2 linked regions of the Homo sapiens genome follow. The protein of the gene in region 2 purifies or fractionates together with the protein of the main gene of each other region. This does not show direct contact. Each region holds a gene or a part of one and is shown on either strand. Other genes may lie near its edges. The genes, in order: AKR1B1 and PMP2.

Evidence for each region.
Region 1: the proteins of PMP2 (region 2) and AKR1B1 fractionate together in Homo sapiens (co-fractionation; one large-scale study listed by BioGRID). This does not show direct contact.

The regions. Positions count from the first base shown.
Region 1 is NC_000007.14:134,445,353-134,449,172, forward strand, and holds part of AKR1B1 (aldo-keto reductase family 1 member B1), read right to left. Parts: intron 3,768-3,820; coding exon 3,645-3,767; intron 3,142-3,644; coding exon 3,035-3,141; intron 2,710-3,034; coding exon 2,628-2,709; exon of another isoform or gene 2,030-2,627; coding exon 1,946-2,029; intron 1-1,945. UniProt on the Homo sapiens protein: Catalyzes the NADPH-dependent reduction of a wide variety of carbonyl-containing compounds to their corresponding alcohols.
Region 2 is NC_000008.11:81,445,319-81,449,238, forward strand, and holds the start of PMP2 (myelin P2 protein), read right to left. Parts: upstream 2,122-3,920; 5' UTR 2,069-2,121; coding exon 1,996-2,068; intron 1-1,995.

The sequences.
Region 1 (3,820 bases), on a different chromosome or scaffold from region 2:
TGCAAATAAAAATAAAAGACAAAATACTGTGCAGGACCCAGATGTCTTCCATGGCTTTGAGCAGAGAGGAGCGATAAGATAAACTGAACTTAGGAAAAGCTGATATATTAGTATTCAGGAAATGTGCATGTTGGGCTAGATAATATATGGAACGATGGAAACAGTCCTTCCTTTCCAGAACCTCCCAGGGAAATGATACATTTTATTTCATTTCAAAAAACACTACTGAGCACTTCTATTGTGATAAGTTGCAGTGAGGAATATAATTATGGGTAAGATGTGTCTTTGCCTCTATTTTATGAAGCAAACAAAGGGCAGAGGTATTTCTACAACTGTAATACAAATAACTAATCACACACTGTATAAGACACTCAACAGCACAGGAAGGGCAGAGGTATTCCAAAGGGATTCCAGCCGGGAAACTGAACAACCACAGCCGAAGAGGAGATGGTATTTGACATGGCCTAAGAAGTATAAGATTTTGACAGAGAGGGCAAGAAAGGTATACTGGGAGAAGAGAACCACCTGCATGAAGGCAGCAGACGGTACAGAACTCAGCTGGCATGGAGGCTGGGAGGGAGGGAGGCAGGCAGGCACCACTGGGTGAGACCCACAAGAGGCTGACACACACTCCCAGAGCCGAAGGGCTCTTAGCTTCAGATGATCACAGAATGTGCAGAAAGAGAGTCTGCTACAGGCTCTGTGGTTATGATCACAGAAAAATGTGCAAAAGCTATACAGTAAGATGCAAAAATAAAATAATTAGGTTAGCATTTTGAGATTAGTCATTTATTTTTTCTTTCCTAATTCCTTAAAAAATGAAATACGAAACAAACGATGCATCTCTGGTGGGATATGCCTTTCCCTCAGTGGCCACTGTTTTGCCATTTTATCTTGTGTACTTAGAACATCTACCTGCACGTAAGAAGAAAAACGTCTCCTCTCCTAAACAATGAGCTCCACTTCCCTCTTCAGGGATCACTCTCATCCCTGTCTCATATGTGACAGGTGGCAGGCACTATGGCCACAGTCTTTGGGCAGTGGAATTGGGCAAAATCAGCTGCTCACCTAAGCTGGGGCCTGCCCAAGAGCCCCAGGCCCATGGCTGTGCTGCGCTCGGCACAGATCTTGGATAAAGACAGAGCATCCCTGGCAGAGCCACTTTGCTCAGTGAGAACAGAGGCTCTTGGGCCATCAGGACTCCCCTGAGCTGCTCTCCTTTGGGCGTGCCCCCCCCCTCCCCCACACCCCCGCCACCAATGCTGCAAGGGCAGGCAGGGAGGGAGGTGGCGCCAAGTAGCCTGAGCTGCTCCAGCTGCCACACTGAGCGCTTCGCCAGAGTCCTGACACAGGTCTAGGCTCTGCCCATCATCACACGAACTCCTTGCAGAGCTGGTGAATGGACTAAATGGCCCAGAGGGTCCTTTGCAGTCCCTGGACTTATCAGCACAGCAACATTTCTCGATCACTTACTAAGGTATTAAGCACCATGTGAAGTGCTCTGATGCATCACTTAATCTTCGTAACAACCCTCAAAATGGATATTATTTTATAGATAGGGAAGCTGAGGCATCGAGCAGTTAAGCGACTTGCCCAGGGTTATGCAGCTGGTAGCTGACAGAGCTCCAGTGCAGGGCAGGTCCAGGCAGTGAAGCTCAAGAGCGAGATTCTCCCCGGGTAACCTCTCGGTGTGGCTGAAGGGCCTGAGCAAAGGTGTAGGTGTATGCGTGCACAGCACGGGGCCCTGGAGGCCCAAGGCCTGCCCCTGCACACGGCTCCACTGGTGAGGTGTCAGTCTCAGTCTTGGCTTGCTCGCCACAGCTCCCTGGCCTCAGAAGAGAGGATGGTGGTGATCCCACAGATGACACTCCAGAGACAGGATGAGAGGCCTCCCCCATCCCCCACTCCATGGAGGAGGGCCAGGCCTGACCAGCCAAGATCTTACCTTAAAGTTCTCAGCAATGCGTTCTGGTGTCACAGACTTGGGGATCACCACCAAGTTCCTCTGCATGGGGAACCGGATCAGGACCTGTGAGCCCAAGGAGACAGTGAGTGTGTATACATGCCAGGCACTCGCACCCATCATCTCAGTCTCTCACACACACAACCTGCAGAAGGACGTGCTAGAACTCCACAGGTGATCAGAGAGGGGCTCCAAGATGTCAGGTCACAGCTAGCAACAGGTAGGCGACGCATTCAGGTCCAGATCTGACTCCAGAGTCCTGCGCTAGCCACTGTGCCACACGCTTCAGTGTCTCAGGCATATCATGAGACCACATGAGGCCCTCCACTGGCTAGAAATGCACACTACCACTCAGGAGAAAGAACATTCCCTGCACGGCTAAGAGCTCTTACATTTGTACAGATGAGGTTCCACATGAATGAACAAGCGCTGGCCCTCGTGGCAGTCACCCTTGCAGTAGTGGGGGCAGGCACTATTAATCTAAGAGCCCATGCCAGAGTCTTCTAAAACCCCGATCTGTGCCCTTTCCACTCTGTACTTGAGGACCCCTAACCATACTTCCTGTGAGGGTGTAACAGGCTCAGTCACTTCCTCCTCTTGGCTAACAGGACTGTCAGGAATGCAGGCAGTTGTGGACGGTCAGCAACACCTGAAGTGGCTGTACCTGGGCTGTAGTTTTATTGTGCTTGGCTGCGATCGCCTTGATCCTGGGATCCTCCAGGAGAGAAGGGTCCTCGGGCTTGGCCCTGAGGATAGAAAGACAGTCCAGGTCACACCATCATGGCCACCACTCACAGCAGCCAGAAACCCCAACCCTAATCCTCCCATCGACCTCAGAGGGCAGCCACCAGTCTCCTCCTCAGAGCTGGGTTAAGAACCCCCAACCCTTTGGAAAAAGAGTAGGTGTCTTGCTACTAGAAACTCCAACCCTTCCAGGAAAACCAGCAAGAGGCTCAGGGGAAGTTTTGCAGATCACCCCCAGAAACATCTTCCTTGAGGCTGAATTGTTCTTTTTAGTCTTTTCTAATCTTCACCAAGTGACACAGGAGCATGAGCCTGTGGGAAGCTCACCAGGGCCTGTCAGGAGAGCCGAGGGGGCTGTAGGCGGTCACCACGATGCCTTTGGACTGGCAGTACTGGATTAACTTCTCCTGAGTGAGATATGGGTGGCACTCAATCTGCAAATGCAAAAACAAGAGCTGATGGGAGCACTGTGGCTACACGCTGATGGGACACAGATGAAGCTTCCTATGCTAAAGTCCCTCCCTACCCCATACAGAAAACTATGTATAACAAACACCCTATTTCCCAGATAAGCTGTAACTTCCTACAGTTCCCAGGTAGTATCCTTGGTGTTATTATTATCTTATTATAGATGTTCTCATGGGCCCTAGAGGCTTTTCTTGGCTTTAGCCACTTATCAACTATCACAGTTCTGAGGATCTCATGGCTGCCTCTTTGTCAGACCCCAAATCGTCACAAGCCAGGCTCAAACTCTTTCTTTCCTGTAAGTTTCCTCTCCCAGATGTGCTGTGTCATGCTGAATCATAACTCAGGACTCTGCCAACACCCAGGAGCTGCCTCCTGGCCACTTGCTGGGTGAGGTGGACGAGAAATCCCTACCAGCATCAGACAGTAAAACAGCAACGTTGCAATGCCAGTGTCGTTGGGGGATGTTTACCTGGTTAACTGCAGGCTTATACTTCAAGCCAGGTTTGTTTAAGATCATCTCCACCTGGAGATGGTTGAAGTTGGAGATGCCAATAGCTTTCACCAGCCCTTCATCCACCAGCTCTTCCATGGCCTACAGAGAAAAGTGTCTGTGTGGTGCAGAAACGAACCCAGAAAGGACAGGAT
Region 2 (3,920 bases):
GGTTCACTCCATTCTCCTGCCTCAGCCTCCCGAGTAGCTGGGACTACAGGGGCCGCCACCACGCCTGGCTAATTTTTTGTATTTTTAGTAGAGACGGGGTTTCACCGTGTTAGCCAGGATGGTCTCGATCTCCTGACCTCGTGATCTGCCCTCCTCGGCCTTCCAAAGTGCTGGGATTACAGGCGTGAGCCACCGCGCCCGGCCAATGTCTGCAGATTTTCAAGAGTAAAAGTTTCCAGCTGAAATAGCTACTGCAAGTCATCCATTTTTATCACATCCAATCCTATTCCCCATTGAAAATTACTAATTATAGATTTGCATAAATCATTCTAGAGATTTTAGTTTGTATGTACAAATACTATAGATATATTTTAAAGATGAGACTATAGCATATACGTATTGTTCTATGATATTTTCCCTCAATACCATATTATGGATATAGAGAAGTATTCCCCTCATATTTTTGATAGAATTTCACTTCTGAAATTTTGTGGCTTCTATATCTAGCTGGTAGGAAAAAAACTATCCATCTAACTTTGAGATCTATACTATTATAAATGATCATAGAGAAATAAAATATTTTTTAAAAAACTCTTCTACATTTCAAAAATGAAACAAAATTAGACTCTTAAGTTTATTACCATTATTACCAAGACTATAAAATATATGGAAAAGGGAAAATGTAAAATAAAAAATATATGAAAGAAAAACTAATTTTCCAGGAAGTCTCAATGGTTGAATAACTTTTTCCAGTTAAAAAGATCTCAAACTTTTACATACTGAATAAGAAGTTAAGAGTTACAGCCAATAAACTATAAACTATATTCTTTCTTCAAATTCTGATTAATCTTTTGTTATTTTATACAGTTTAGGACAATGTTTCTCAAGTTAAATCATAATCTCTGGGTCAGAGCCTGAGAATTTATATTTACCAAATCCCAAGGTGTTATTTTGCATGCTAAACTGGAAAACAGTGGAATTAGAAAATCCTTCACTGAGACTTTCTTTTATTTGGCTTCTTCCTCAGCTGTAAAGTGAAGTCTTTAAATCTAACCGATCTCACAGTATGAATTGATCCCCATAAGTTCTCTTACTGTTCCAGGCAACAATGACATGACTTTGCTCATTTTATCTAAAATAGAACATTTTATACAGGCTTTCTGAACAGTTAAGTAAAGCTGTAGGCACTTTGACAAGCACAGCAAACTCGGGTCACTGGCATCACTCTTTATTGTATTTATATAGTTCTGAAAATTCCCAAAGACTCTTCATATCTATTGTGTTTATATCGATGGGACATACTCTAGAAATAGTATAAAATAAAGTTGTTGTAACTAATGACTCGGTTTTCCATCTTCACTCACTGCTCCAACTCCAGAAACGTCTGATGTTAGCGAAATTGAGTTTGAATTCACTGCCATAACTCCAGTTCTTTTTCTCTCAGTAACTTCCCTAGACTATGAACACAGTATTTTAGGAAGTATTTTTGTTTTTCAAACTCTCTGTATCTACATGATTGTGTAATAAAGGACAACCTAGAGGTAGAGAGAAAAAACTGTTAGTTTAGCTAAAACTTAAATTTTTAAATTGAGATTTTCTAGGATTTGCAATATATTCAATTCCTTATTTTATGAACACTTCAGTTGCTATGAACGTAGCTCTCAGAAAAGCCAGAAAATGGGTTGACCATGCTTTTAAGCTTTCTCTCCTCTGGACCTGCAACCAAAATTCTCTTGGTATGAAATTGCCCTTGAAATCAGTGGGCATTCCATGCATTTAAGCAGCTCTCTCATTTAAGTTAATTCTATTAAAAATTACCACAAATAAAATTCAAATAAATTATCTGAATGACACAACAAAAGATTAATCCTAAAAGAGGATTGTACTGCAGCCTTGCAAAACTCCCCAGTATCCTGTTAAAAGTAGTAGATGAAAATGTCATGTAGCTTTCTTAAAAAGGAGCTTTTCAGCAGAACAACAAAAAGCATTTCTTACCCAGAGCTTTCATGTAATCGTCAAAGTTCTCACTAGAGACAAGTTTCCAGGTGCCCAGGAATTTGTTGCTCATCGTGATGGGTGAGAGCTCAACACAGTTCTAAGTGGGATTCAGAAGACTCAGATAAAATGCTGAGGCCTCAGAAGATTCTTTTCAAGGATGCCCAAAGCGTGTGACTCTTACAGAGACCCAATGGGGAAAGGCAGTGTCGGGACTAAGCAATGAATGGCTCTTCAATGGCCAGCTGCCCGCCCAATAGGATAAAAGAAAACCCCACATAATACTTCCCTTTGTCTCCAAAAAAATTTATAAAATGAATGAGATTACTATTTGAATCTTCAAAAATTTTTTGATCAATCTTACATTTATAAGAAGGCTTAGGCCCTTCATGCTTTGGAAAAGACTGCATGAATTCTGTGATCATGAATGAATGTGTGTGTGTTTAGGCATGTCGGTCACTCTCAATCCTGAGTCTGCACAATTAAGAATTCTTATTGAAAGGGAAGAAAAAGAGGAAAATGTCTGTAAGTATTATGATAACAGTCTCAAATATGTTGTGGGAGAGAAACGTAGGGGAGCAGTGTGAGGAAGTATTCATAGGTAAGAAGGCTTGGCATAGTTCACATATCCCAGGCAGGCAGAGTAGGCAGACAAAGAAGTCAGTCTATTGCAGCAGAGCACAGAAATTGTATTCATGTGATGAAACAAGAAGTAGCACTATAACATGTTCTTTGAGCACAACAAAGATTTTCAGCTAGAAATACTTAAAGTCTGAACTAAGCAGGTTCCTGGATACTATAACTATTTGTGTTTAAGTCATTTAAAATGAATCTACAATTTTATAAAGAGGATTTTCTATAGAAAGAGTACTAATTTATATTGACAACTCACTATGGGCCAGACACTGTGCTAAGTGCTTAATACGGGTGATCTCATTTAATTATATCACTAATTCCAAGAGTTAGGAACTATTATTATATCCATTTTACCAATGATAAAAATGAGCTTGGGGACATTAGGTAAATTGCTCCCAAAAGTTGAATAAGGAGAGGACAGGTTTGAACCCAGCATTGCTGCCAGTGCCCGGGTTCTGAACCATGATCTTACCCTGCTTCTATTATACTATACCATACATGCTACGTGCACGGAGGCCCTGGCCAGAGATCACCTGATGCTGATAGCACCACGATTAGCTAGAAACACTCTCTCTCTTCTCAAAAATCAAGAGAGGTAAAAAATCAAAAGATCCAGCCTACTATATTACATCAAAGCCCCAGTCTTTGGCCAAGGGGAACAAACGTAAATCCACTTAGAACATAAGTGTTGCTCTTGAGAATCTCTGATTACTGCTATATCTTTCCTAGCAGGTTTTTTGTTTGTTTGTTTTTGTTGTTGTTTGTTTGTTGTTTGTTTTTACCTTAGCATTAATTCTGGCTGGAGACAACTGATATTACCAAGTTTTATACATTTAGTAAACAGGTTGGCACTGTTTACAACAACAAAAATATGATGAATTTGCTCATAACAGGTAGAATTACTAGCAAGAAGGGCTCAAGAAACCCAGTCGCATAGCTGTGACATAACTATTGCAGTTACATAGTTAGAGTTCAAGCTGAGTAAAACACGTGAAATCATATACAGTGGGCTGAAGTTTCATTTACAATCCCAGTGCCTGAATAGCTCAAGGTGGGAAAGAAATGGTGAATAGGAAAATTCCTCAGCTAACCAACTAACCCAATCCTAAACCCAAGAGAATGTAACTGGAGGGAGTACATTGTACTGGGATAGAAAAAACAACTGTGAAAGAAAAAGCTTTTGATTAGTGGATATGTTATTTTATTTTCCAAAACACTTTACAGAAATGATGATATCACTTGTACCTTCAAAACTTTTTTTTTTTTGTTAGCTGTACACTATTAAGGAG